Regions from separate parts of the Homo sapiens genome. Here region 1 is linked to region 2. Evidence: fine-mapped expression QTL. Tissue or cell type: nucleus accumbens. Region 2 holds a variant in brackets; the other region holds the start of a gene. All regions are shown on one strand. Distances are from middle to middle.

The links.
Region 1: it holds the start of CPVL-AS2, and the variant in region 2 is fine-mapped to the expression of CPVL-AS2 in nucleus accumbens (GTEx, PIP 0.93).

The regions. Positions count from the first base shown.
Region 1 is chr7:28,977,681-28,983,066 of GRCh38, forward strand. CPVL-AS2 (CPVL antisense RNA 2) reads left to right here and starts at 2,287. Exons shown (of 5, transcript NR_038965.1): 1 at 2,287-2,418.
Region 2 is chr7:28,996,358-29,001,743 of GRCh38, forward strand. All of the region lies in intron 12 of CPVL (carboxypeptidase vitellogenic like), which reads right to left. CPVL-AS2 (CPVL antisense RNA 2) reads left to right here. Exons shown (of 5, transcript NR_038965.1): 3 at 4,612-4,698; 4 at 4,972-5,027. Among named protein-coding and RNA genes, the nearest start is that of CPVL-AS2, 19 kb to the left of the region's middle. The variant C/T (reference allele first, on the strand shown) is at 3,268.

The DNA of each region.
Region 1 (5,386 bases), 19 kb before region 2:
TGGACTGCTGAAGCATTGCAGCCCAAATCAGGAACGTGGTAAGAGGAGCTCTCTCAGGACCAAACACTGAGCATGTTATCTGGAGGGAGAGATGGCCAGAAGTCGAGATATATACCAATTGATGGGTCATTAATGGTTTTATTAGCATACTGGTGACAACGAAGTCTAGGAAAAAGGTTTGCAGATGGACCTTTCCCTATGGGCACTATCACATATGAATTCTCATTAGAGGGCATCCACTGATGAGGCCCTCAGCAGTCCACTGACAGGATAGCCTGTTCTGTGGATGTCAGTCAGTCCATTTCCAGCAACCCCGAGGCTTGCTTAATAGGCTCATGAAGAGCATGGCCATTGTGGCAGGGAGAGAAGCCAGACATGAGTTCAACAATGTGGACTTCCCCTCATCAAACTGGTCTGGCTCCTGTCACTGATAAATGACTAACTTGCTGACAGGGGCTCTACCATCTCTGAGTCTCTGATGTGGAGTCATTCCCCAGGGGGACCAGTCAGCCATCAGATTATTGCATGGAACTTCTATTATGAAGGACATGATTTTGTCCTCTAGAATAGACACTATTTATTTTTTCTTTCTTTCTTTTTAAATAGAGACAGGGTCTCACTCTGTCACCCAGGCTGGAGTGCAGTGGTGCAATCATAGCTCACTATAACCTTGAACTCCTGGGCTCAAGTGATCCTCCTGCCACAGCCTCCCAAGTAGCTAGGACTACAGGCACTCACCACCATGCCCAGCTCTTTTTTAAAAAAAATTTTTTTGTTCAGACAGGGTCTCGCTATGTTGCCCAGGCTGGGACACTATTTCTAAATATGCTGTGCATTCACTGCCTGCAGTGGGTTTATCAGTACCACCATCTGTGAACTTAACACAGAGCCTTATTTAATAGCATGATGATTATGACCAAAGAAGTTCTTTGCTTGTGACCAAAGAACTAATTTTACAGCAAAAGTAGTACAGCATTGGTATCATGCCCATGGGACTTATTGGATTACCATGTACTCCAGCACCCAAAGGTAGTTATCATTACAAAATTTAGAAATAGATAACTGAAGTTTCAAAAATGGTACCATCTGGAAGATAACTGCCTGCAGTCTAGGTGGCTTTCTTACTGCACGTAGATTATGCTTTGAATCAGCAAATGAGTGATGCTATGTCTCTCATAGTCAGGATACACAGACCTGGGAGTCAAGGGGTAAAAATGAGAGTGGCTACTCTCACTATCACATCCTGAATATCACTCACAGAATATTTGCCCTCCTTCTACAAAACATAGATCAGCTGGTTTAAAGGTCTTGATTCCTAGGAGAGAACGCTTCCTCTAGGGGAAACAATAACGTTCCACTGAACTGGAATTCGATACTTCTGTCTGCCCATTTCAAGTTTCTTCTGCCACTAAATGGACAGGCAAAGAAGAGGGTTACTTTTCTGGCTGGGGTGACTGAACAGAATTATTACCAGGGAGTAATTGGGTTGCCGTGACACACAATGGTGGCAGAGAGGACTATGTCTGAAGCCCTGGAAATTCTCCTGGGTGCCTCTTAGCACTTCCATGTCCAAGAGTAAAAGTTTCTGGAATAATATTGCAACCTGCAGGACAGCTAAAGACTTAGACCCTTCAAAAATGAAGGTTTCAATAATCTTGCCAAGAAAAGAACCCCAGACAACTAACTTCAGTTGCTGGCTGAAGGTAAAAGGAAGATGGAATGGACGTTGGAAGAAGTTCATTCTCAATTATTATTTAACTATTATCATCATCAGTCAACTAGTTTTGTTACCAGTCACCAAAACAAAACCCGTAGCAGCTATGCACATTTTCTTCTTTGTTTACTCTGCATAACACTGAGTGTTGGTGGTTAATTTTACAACTTAGCCTTTAGGTTGTAGAACATCCATTATAAAAGGTGCAATGGTGTCTGAAAGGAAAAAATTTAACATCACCCTGGGATGAATACAGTGGCTGAGGCCACTATCTTACAGGGTTTTACTCTGAATTATCTGTTTTAGGGAGAGAGTGAACTTGTGTTCATCTGTGTGAGGAATAAAATTGCATTCTGTGAGGAAGAAGTGTGATGTTGCTGTAGGGTGCGTACAATGGAATGTGTGGATGCTGAGTAGCAAAAGGGTGGATGTGCTGGATTGTGTCTCTTGACTCTTAAGTCCAAGTCCACCCTTCTGGATAATCCTCCATCCTCTTTCCCAGACTCACTCATCCAGCTGGTTTCATGGGAGGCGCTGGTGCTAGGTTCCAGTGTGGGAGGAGGAGATTAGCCATTTTCCCCAGCTGGCCTGGACTGCCTGTGCTCTGGGCTCCAGCAATCCGGGGATAGTTTCAGCAAGATCAACACTGAGTATCCCTGACAGGATTCAGCCAAGGGCCAGTGGCAGCTTCCCAGCCTCTTTGGGTAAGAGCCCCTTCTTTTTTTGCTCCTCAGTCCTTCCAGTAGTTTTTAACCAATTTCCTGTGTTCCATCCTACTCTGCTTGAGATATATAGAGAGGTTTCTACTTTTGTGTTTGAGCACTGAATGATACATAGTTCCTTCCATATCAGTCCATAGTGAGCTTCCTCATTCTCTAGTCAAAAAAAAAAAAAAAAAAAAAAAAAAAACCCAAACAAACAAACAAACAAAACAGGAATACATCATATTTATATGAGAAGACCCAATAATGGATATTTAGACTGCTCTCAATCTGCTCTTTTAATCAATAAGAGTAGTAAGTACATTTCCATTTCAGGAAAGTATTATCAAGGCATATATTTGGAAATTTTTGTGTCTTACCCCACTTGGAATTTTACGCGCCAGAGCTCTTATGCAGGAATCTAAATGGCTGAAATAGGATTAAACTAGACTGTGGAATCTAGAGAGCGTTCAACTGCAGCTGGTTATTTATTGCTTAATAAGTATTTTGAAGTATTGTTCGGCTATGTCCTAGCCTTATCTCTTCCAAATGAATTGCAAGCACTCGGAGCTTGATTTTTTGTCATCTTTTGAATATGTAAATGTGTCATGTTGGGAGGGGGGTTGGTAGTACCTCCCTCCTCTGTGATTCATGTCACCTGAATGTGTCATCCTACTGGCAGTCTAGGAAGAGCCCTGCATAGGTCTTAGGTTTTCTCTTGAGGAAGGAGCTCATGACACAGCCAGCACTTCCACATAGGATAGTAGCTCAAATAGAGGTCCAGTTTGTTTTATTATTGGGCTTATTCCAAATTCCTTTCCTGGGGCACTGTGCTTTAGAAATGCTTTTTTCTTAATTATGAAATATTTTAATTGATTTGTGGGCAGTGCCTCTTATTCAGCCTGTGCAGCCAGTCCCTTTGGTCCAGCTCAGGGTTGGAGGACTGCCTGGACCTGTTCAACGCCCTCAGCCCCGTGAGGCCGCCTCAGGCCATCTCACCCATCTGACACTGCTTCCACTGACCACAGAATGAAGGCCTCTTTAGCTCTTTGCTAGCTCCATCCCCCAACTCTGTTTCTTGATTTTATCTTCTTTAATTAATGAAGTGCACTTTTGCTATCTTCTTAACTTTTAGGTATTCAGATGATTCTGCCGTTCCATTTCCAGCTCTTAGACTCGTTGAATGTTCTAAAATGGGAAAGGCTGGGTCCTGTTTATAGTTGCCTTGCCAACTCCCAATCAGCCTTTTCCTAAGGAAGATTTTTCTTTAGCCAGTCTACACTTTCATAGCAACTTAGAGTGTGACAGGAATCCTCAAACATTCAGAAGTGACTTGGCCGGTAGAGATCCGGAGTTGCATTTCTAGCATGAATATCCAGCCTTGTCCCTTGAGGGTTCAACTTTAATAATCTTTAACATAATCCCTTTAAAACACAAATCCCTGGCAGATCCAAGCTGCTTTGGTACAAAAGTTCTAGAGATTAAAACCAAAGCTGCTTTCGGTGGTAGTGCTGTTATACTGTCAATCCCATTGCCAGCCAAATTAACAGCATACATTTCTGATAACCCACCTAATGCTGGTAAGCAATCAATAGCCAGATTCATTTAACTCTCAGAAGCTTAAGTGCTGTTAAATCACATTTCCTGTTCATGGGGCTGAATCCTAGAAGATGTGCAAGAGTTGTTTTTTCAAGTACTCAGTGGAAAAAAGAAAGAAGGCATGTAAAGGAAAAGGTTTTAGTACTTATATGTTATATTGATTATATATAACATTTATATTCACTGTAATATTGAACAAAAATAGTTTATACTGATCATTTACTACACGAAACAGCATTACCTAAGATAAATGGTAACTGATTTGCTAATTTTCTAGATAGTCACATTCACAGATAAGTTCACAGCTGGATCAGATACACCGTTAACAAAAACTGGTTTTTAAAACTATCAAAACAGGAAGAACATGGAAACTTCATCCCTAAATCCTCAATGGCACATTGGAGATTTCTTAACGCGTATTGCTTTTCTTTTCACTGGAATTCCACATGCAAGTTGTGAAGTGCAAGACTGAACTATTAGAAGCTCCAGATTTGACATGATCGCAAATTAGTTTTACCTCTTGCTGGTACATATTCCCTATGTTCAGGTTCATAGAAATCCCAGAAAACACATAGGTCTCCATCTGAATTTTGGTCAAAGGATTCAGTTCTACCTCTTTCATCCTGGCCCAGTTTTACTGCTGGGAGTCTCACTGGCTTTCTCTTTAGCCGTCAACAAATTTGGAGCAAGCTTTTCTCTCTGGGAAAAGATTACATATGGCAGTCTGGATTTTAGTTTATATTTTCATTATAAATGAGAGAGTCTTTTAAAAAGCCACTTAAGAATCACTGCACAGCTTCATGTGGGATTTGGCCAACGGTTGTTGGGGTTCTAAGCTATTAAATCAGCTTTTTTCTAACTGCGAAAAGCAGAGGTTGAAATTTTATATTTTTTCAACTCCTCAACCAGTGGCTTAAGTAGTTGAGTTATTAAGAAGAAAACAATATGGAGTATTTTTCAGAATTAGACATTCGCTTTTGGTTTGTTTATCCACAGATGAAAAGAGTTGAGAAGATTTCATCTTAGCATATCTAATTTGAATTACATCTCTTCTACCAGAATCCTTTTCTCGGGCATAATGTAGCGGGAACCATCAGTTTGTTATTGCTGGCAGGTCTCAGCTTGTAACCAACAGAGGAATATTCCAGTCCTGCCATGACACAAAATAGAATTTGTATTCGTACTGGAAGAAAGGGTTGACTTTCTAAATACCTTATTGTAGTTTATGAGTTTAAATTAAGCTAGATTTTTTAAAAAATCTATTTGTAAGGGTCTCATTGCCTCTAAAGAGCAAAACTAGGTCAAAACTTCCCTTAACTTAAAGGTGGATAAACAATTCTATTTCACATAAAATACCATGAAATTGAAAAGA
Region 2 (5,386 bases):
TTATCAGTAATGAAGGGGAAATTTTGGTTCTCAAAAAAATTAAAAAACCAAAAACATCCTTGACTGAGGCAGGAAGATGACCTGAACCCAGGAGTTGGAGTCTGCAGTGAGCTAGGATCATGCCACATGCACTGCACTCCAGCCTGGTTGACAGAATGAGACCCCATCTCTTAAAAAAAAAAACCAAAAAACAAAAAAAAAAAAAACAAAACAAAAAACTTGACACTTGAAATGAAAGAAAGTCATGTTTTGAGCAGCATAGAGTTAGAACATTCTTTTTTTTCCTAATATTGGATTATAAAACATTTTAAAACATAGCAAATTCGAAAACAATTCATATAGTGACGATTTTGAGTCATGAACTTTCACTTTACTTGCTTTCTCACATAAGGGTGCCTCTATGCATCCCACACCCATCCACTAATCCATCTTATATTTTTGACACATCTCAAAGTAAAATGGGCATGTAGTGCACTTCCCCCACACACTTCAGCATCACATTATTCATCAGAGTTCAACATGTGTTTACAGATTTTCTTCTTTTGAGTCAAGTTAAGATACAATGAAATGCGCTAGTCTTAAGTGTAGACTCACCAGTTCTGACAAATGCAGACACCTACGTAACCCAAGCCCTTGTTGGGTGATATAAAGCATTCCTAAAACATCTCTAATGATGAGATCCAATCAGCAAAAGGGGACTGGTCTCTGTACTCGTTAAGCCTCTAGCGTCAGCTAATATTCCAAGTAGAGGGAAACGGGAAGCTGTCATGATTCAGTGCCAAAAGGGCAAGGACTGACACTGAGTGTTGGGAAGTTACATGCAGGAGAGGTCAGCCTGGCCTGAGATGTCTCGTTCCATATGTGGAGAATGGACAGGAGGTACCAGTGCATGAAGTGAATAAACGTATGCAAAAAGGACATCACTTTCAGTAACTTCTAGCTGCAGAATCACGATCAGCAATTAAAGGTCACCTTCACAAGGCCCTTCCTAAGAGGCTGGGTTCTTCTACTTGTCTCAATCTGAAGGAAACTGAGGCAGAAAAAGTATATTTGGATAGTACATTTATTATATTGAAAATCTGCCCCTATATCCCAACACCCTCCATCTTACAACCTTGACGTGCAGTAAGTAGGATTAACACTATTAGATGATATTTACCTTGCAGCTCGCAGCTATACAAGCTGTGCACTGAACAACTACAGGGAGCACCATTCACATGAGCATTGAGATGACTGAGCTATTTGGAATTATTCAGTGGCTTGTCCAAGTCACACAATTGTTAAGTGAGATAACTAGCTAGAACCCTGACTTCTGATGCAAACACCGGTGTGGTGTTTTTAATCAAACCCTCTACTCAATCATTCCTTATCTTTGAACTGAAATTTGCAGCTTAGTCACGGAACATTTTTATTCACCTCTCAATAGCCCTCTGAGGTTTATTGATGAAAAAAATTATTGCAGATATAAACATAATTTTCTGTATTTTTGTATTTCACATATTACAGTGAGGGAGGCAGATCCCATTTGCAGATGTGGGACCAGACTTAACTCTTTCACATGCAAATGTGAAACTTTTGTGTTTTGCTGCAGTTGATCAATGGTCATTTGTGCCTCACTGCAATGACTGTGAAACCCATCTACCATTTGTGTAGAAGCTTGCAACTGGAAACCCAGCATGCCCACTTTTTATCACAAACTGAAAGTAAACATGTGTGACAAGAACCCCTTCATAGGACTCCAGAGGGAAACTTTTGCCGCCCCGCAATCCCAGGCTAGACATTTCTTCCTGCAGATTTTCATCCATATCTTTGGCCCTGGCAGGAATCTGATGAGTGATTTCTGTGCAGCTTCAGCTCAGCTGAGGACACTTAACAAAGTCATATGTGTGACAAAACCCAGCTGCTTCAACTGGAAATGAGTTTGGCAGCAATGGTCCGGAACACCAATAAATTGAATACCCAAGAGCTAAAGGTCATCCTGCCCCCAGAACCAGTGCTGCAGCTAACAAAGGACAAACAAAGGATAGCACAGTGCTTCACAGCCTGGGCTCAGAAGTCAGAGTGCAGGAGCATGGCAAGAGGCACTGCACGTTGTGTGACCTTGGGCAAGGAACTTAACCTCACTGAGCCTCAGGTTCCTTTACTTTACAATTGGGAAACAAGTATTACCTCGTGGGGTAGTTGTGAGTTGTGTGAGGAGTTAGTGGAATAATGTCCCTGGAATACTTAGCACAGTGCCCGGCCTGGGATGGTCTTCAGTAAATATTGGTCATTTTCGTTATTCTTCCAACACTTATCTATATTGAAAATCCAGAATCAAAATGCCTATATCAGGAGGATTGCTTGAGATCAGGAGGATCGCTTGATTGCAGGAGTTTGAGGCTACAGTGAGCTGACTGAGCCACTGCACTCCAGCCTGGGCAACAAAAGGAGATCCCATCTCTAAATATAAATGAATATATATGTATATATGCTTATATGAACCTAAACTACCCTAGAACATGGTGTTCCTACATTTTCATAAAAAACCTTGGTTTAAAAAAGGTTGTTTAAAACAATGGTTCTTGGCTGGGTGCAGTGGCTCATGCCTGTAATCCCAACACTTTGGGAGGCTGAGGTGGGCGGATCATTTGAGGTCAGGAGTTTGAAAGAGCCTGGCCAACATGGCGAAACCCTGCCTCTACTAAAAATTAAAAAAAAAAAAATTAGCCAGGCATGGTGATGCACGCCTGTAATCCCAACTACTGGGGAGGCTGAAGCAGGAGAATCACTTGAACCTGGGAGGCAGAGGTTGCAGTGAGCTAAGATGGCACCACTGCACTCCAGCCTGGGCGACAGAGTGAGACTCCACCTCAAAAACAAACGAAAAAACAAAACAATGACTCTCAAATTTGAACGTGCATAAAAATACCTGAGCTCATTAAAAGAGATCGTGAGGCATCACCTCCAGACTTTCCAATTCGGAAGGTCCAGGGCAGGGCCTAAGAATTTGCATATCTAACAATTCCAAAGCAATGCTGATGCTGTTGTTCCAACTGCTTGTTGAAAACCACTGTTGAGAATTTTTTTCTACTCTGTGGCAAACCAGGGAATTCTCTGTTTACATCAAGGTAATTTGATTAACACCTACTCATGAATACAAGTAGAAATTTGTTTAATACCTACTCATGACCTCACTTCCTGGGTATCCGCTCTCCTGGTATTTACTCACGCACATGCGCACTCACACACACCTTCCCTGTCCATAATTATCAAGTGGTGAAGGAG[C/T]GCTGAAGGGGTCAGGTGTTCTTACTCTTCCTCTCAGTGACCTACCTGACCCTGGTCCAATTTCTGAGCTGCCATGTGTAATGACCCTAATGGCATTGTAAATTGTGTCATTAATATTGCGGGAAGAGAAAGCTTGTTAAGGGACAAAGTTGTTTCACATGCCACAAAATTCCCAAACAAAGCATATTCTTAAGCAGATTCACATACAGCATTTTACTGATATTAACTTCAAAAATAAATATATTTTTGAGTGTGGAAAAATAAACCACTCTTGTTTATAATCAAGCCACTCACCATTCACAAATCAAAGATAACAGACCACTTGGCAGCTTTTAGAGGTGAGTAACAAAATGTGTCAGGGCTGTAATTACGTATTTAAATGTGACAAGATTAATCTCAGGGCTCCCTGAATAGAACTGTCTATTTTGGGTGCCTCCACACTAGAGCTGCAGCCTCTAACTTCATGTGTTCCAGATGTTCCAGGGGGTCACAAATGTGTCATGAATTTCAACAGGGTTATACAAACACTTTAAAGCTTCATTCCACTTTATTTTTTAGAAAACAATATAATTCTCCCTGGAACTAGAAACAAAGACCTGCCAGTAAAGGTTTCCCAGTTGTGCCTGTTTAGATGACAGAAAAGAGAGGGAAGTTCACAGTGGGCTTGTTGATGTAGATGTGTCAGGGGAAGCTTCTTGGGGGTCTTGAAGGAGATCACTGGACGGAGAGTGGTGGGTGGGTGGGGTGGGGGTGGAGGGATCACCGCAGACAGAGGAAACTGTGTGTGGAAATGCAGGAGGCGTGGAAATGCAGGAGGCATGGAAATGCAGGGGCATGAAACTGTGGGCACGTGCAGCAGAGGGATCACCGCAGACAAAGGAAATTCTGTGTGGAAATGCAGGGGCCGTGAAGCTGCGGGCGCATGCAGCAGTCTGTATGTCGTCCCATTCATGCAGGAATAGAGGGAAACAGAAGAGACAGATGAACAGGCAAACGCTAGTGGGACCATGTGATGCCCCAAGTGACATGCTGGGATGAGTGGACCTTATCCTATCGGGCTTTAAAAGCAACTGTGGTAAAATACACTTAACATAAAATTACCACTTTAACCATTTTAAAGCGTATGATTCGGTAGCATTTAGTATATTCACACTATCTTGTTGCAGAATATTTTCACCACCCCAAAGGAAACCCATATACATCAGTAATCACTTCCCACTCCCCCTCTCCCCATCAGCCCCTGGCAACCATTAATCTGCTTTCTGTCTCTATAGACTTGCCTATTCTGGATATATCCTAGAGGGTTTTAAGTAGGGTAGTGACATGCTTATGTTTGCATTGTAGAAAAATGACTTAATGTCTAAGGAGAAGGCTAATTTGGAAGGGAGTCATACTGGTACAAGGAGGCAAATTAGGAGACTACCAAATCAGGTGAGAGGATGTGGGCTCATGGGAGGGATGGGGAGAAGGGGAAGGAGAAGAGGGTAGTAAGATGGAACCAATAAAATCAGTGATTAATCCGATATAAAGGTTAAGTGAGACTTTCTCTACCCATCCCCAACAAATCCTCCCCATTTCAGGCTTCTGACATGGGCAGATTTGCAAAGGTGGTGCTACTCACCAGGAAAGAGAAAAGAGCCACATGGGAGCTGCAAGTTTGGCAGGCAGAATATGTAGGATTGGTTTATTGTTTCTGCTTTCCAGTATAGAAAGATGCATACCCTCAAGAGAATCTGCTTGTTGTGGTTTCTGATTTACATGTAAGTTCTTTTCACTACTTTTATGCCATTCCACATTTACTAAATCTTATCTTTTAGTTTGCTTTCAGACACTAACTATAAGTAGAAATAACGTAAATAGCATTCAAATAAAAATATATTGAAAAGGTACTTGGGAACGAGAATAAAAAACAAGCCAAAGCTTGTTAGCAGACACTTCCTAACAAAGAATGCAATAAGTCACTTTCGAAAGAATGAAAAAACAGCAGAGATCAAGGCTGGGAGTTGCTTCAACAGCACTCAGGGAAACGATTCTTGAGGTCTCCCACTGTACACCTCTGGTGTAGCAAATGGTTATTGAATAGAATGAGAAAAGGAGCTTCTAGGTGCTTCAGGAGACC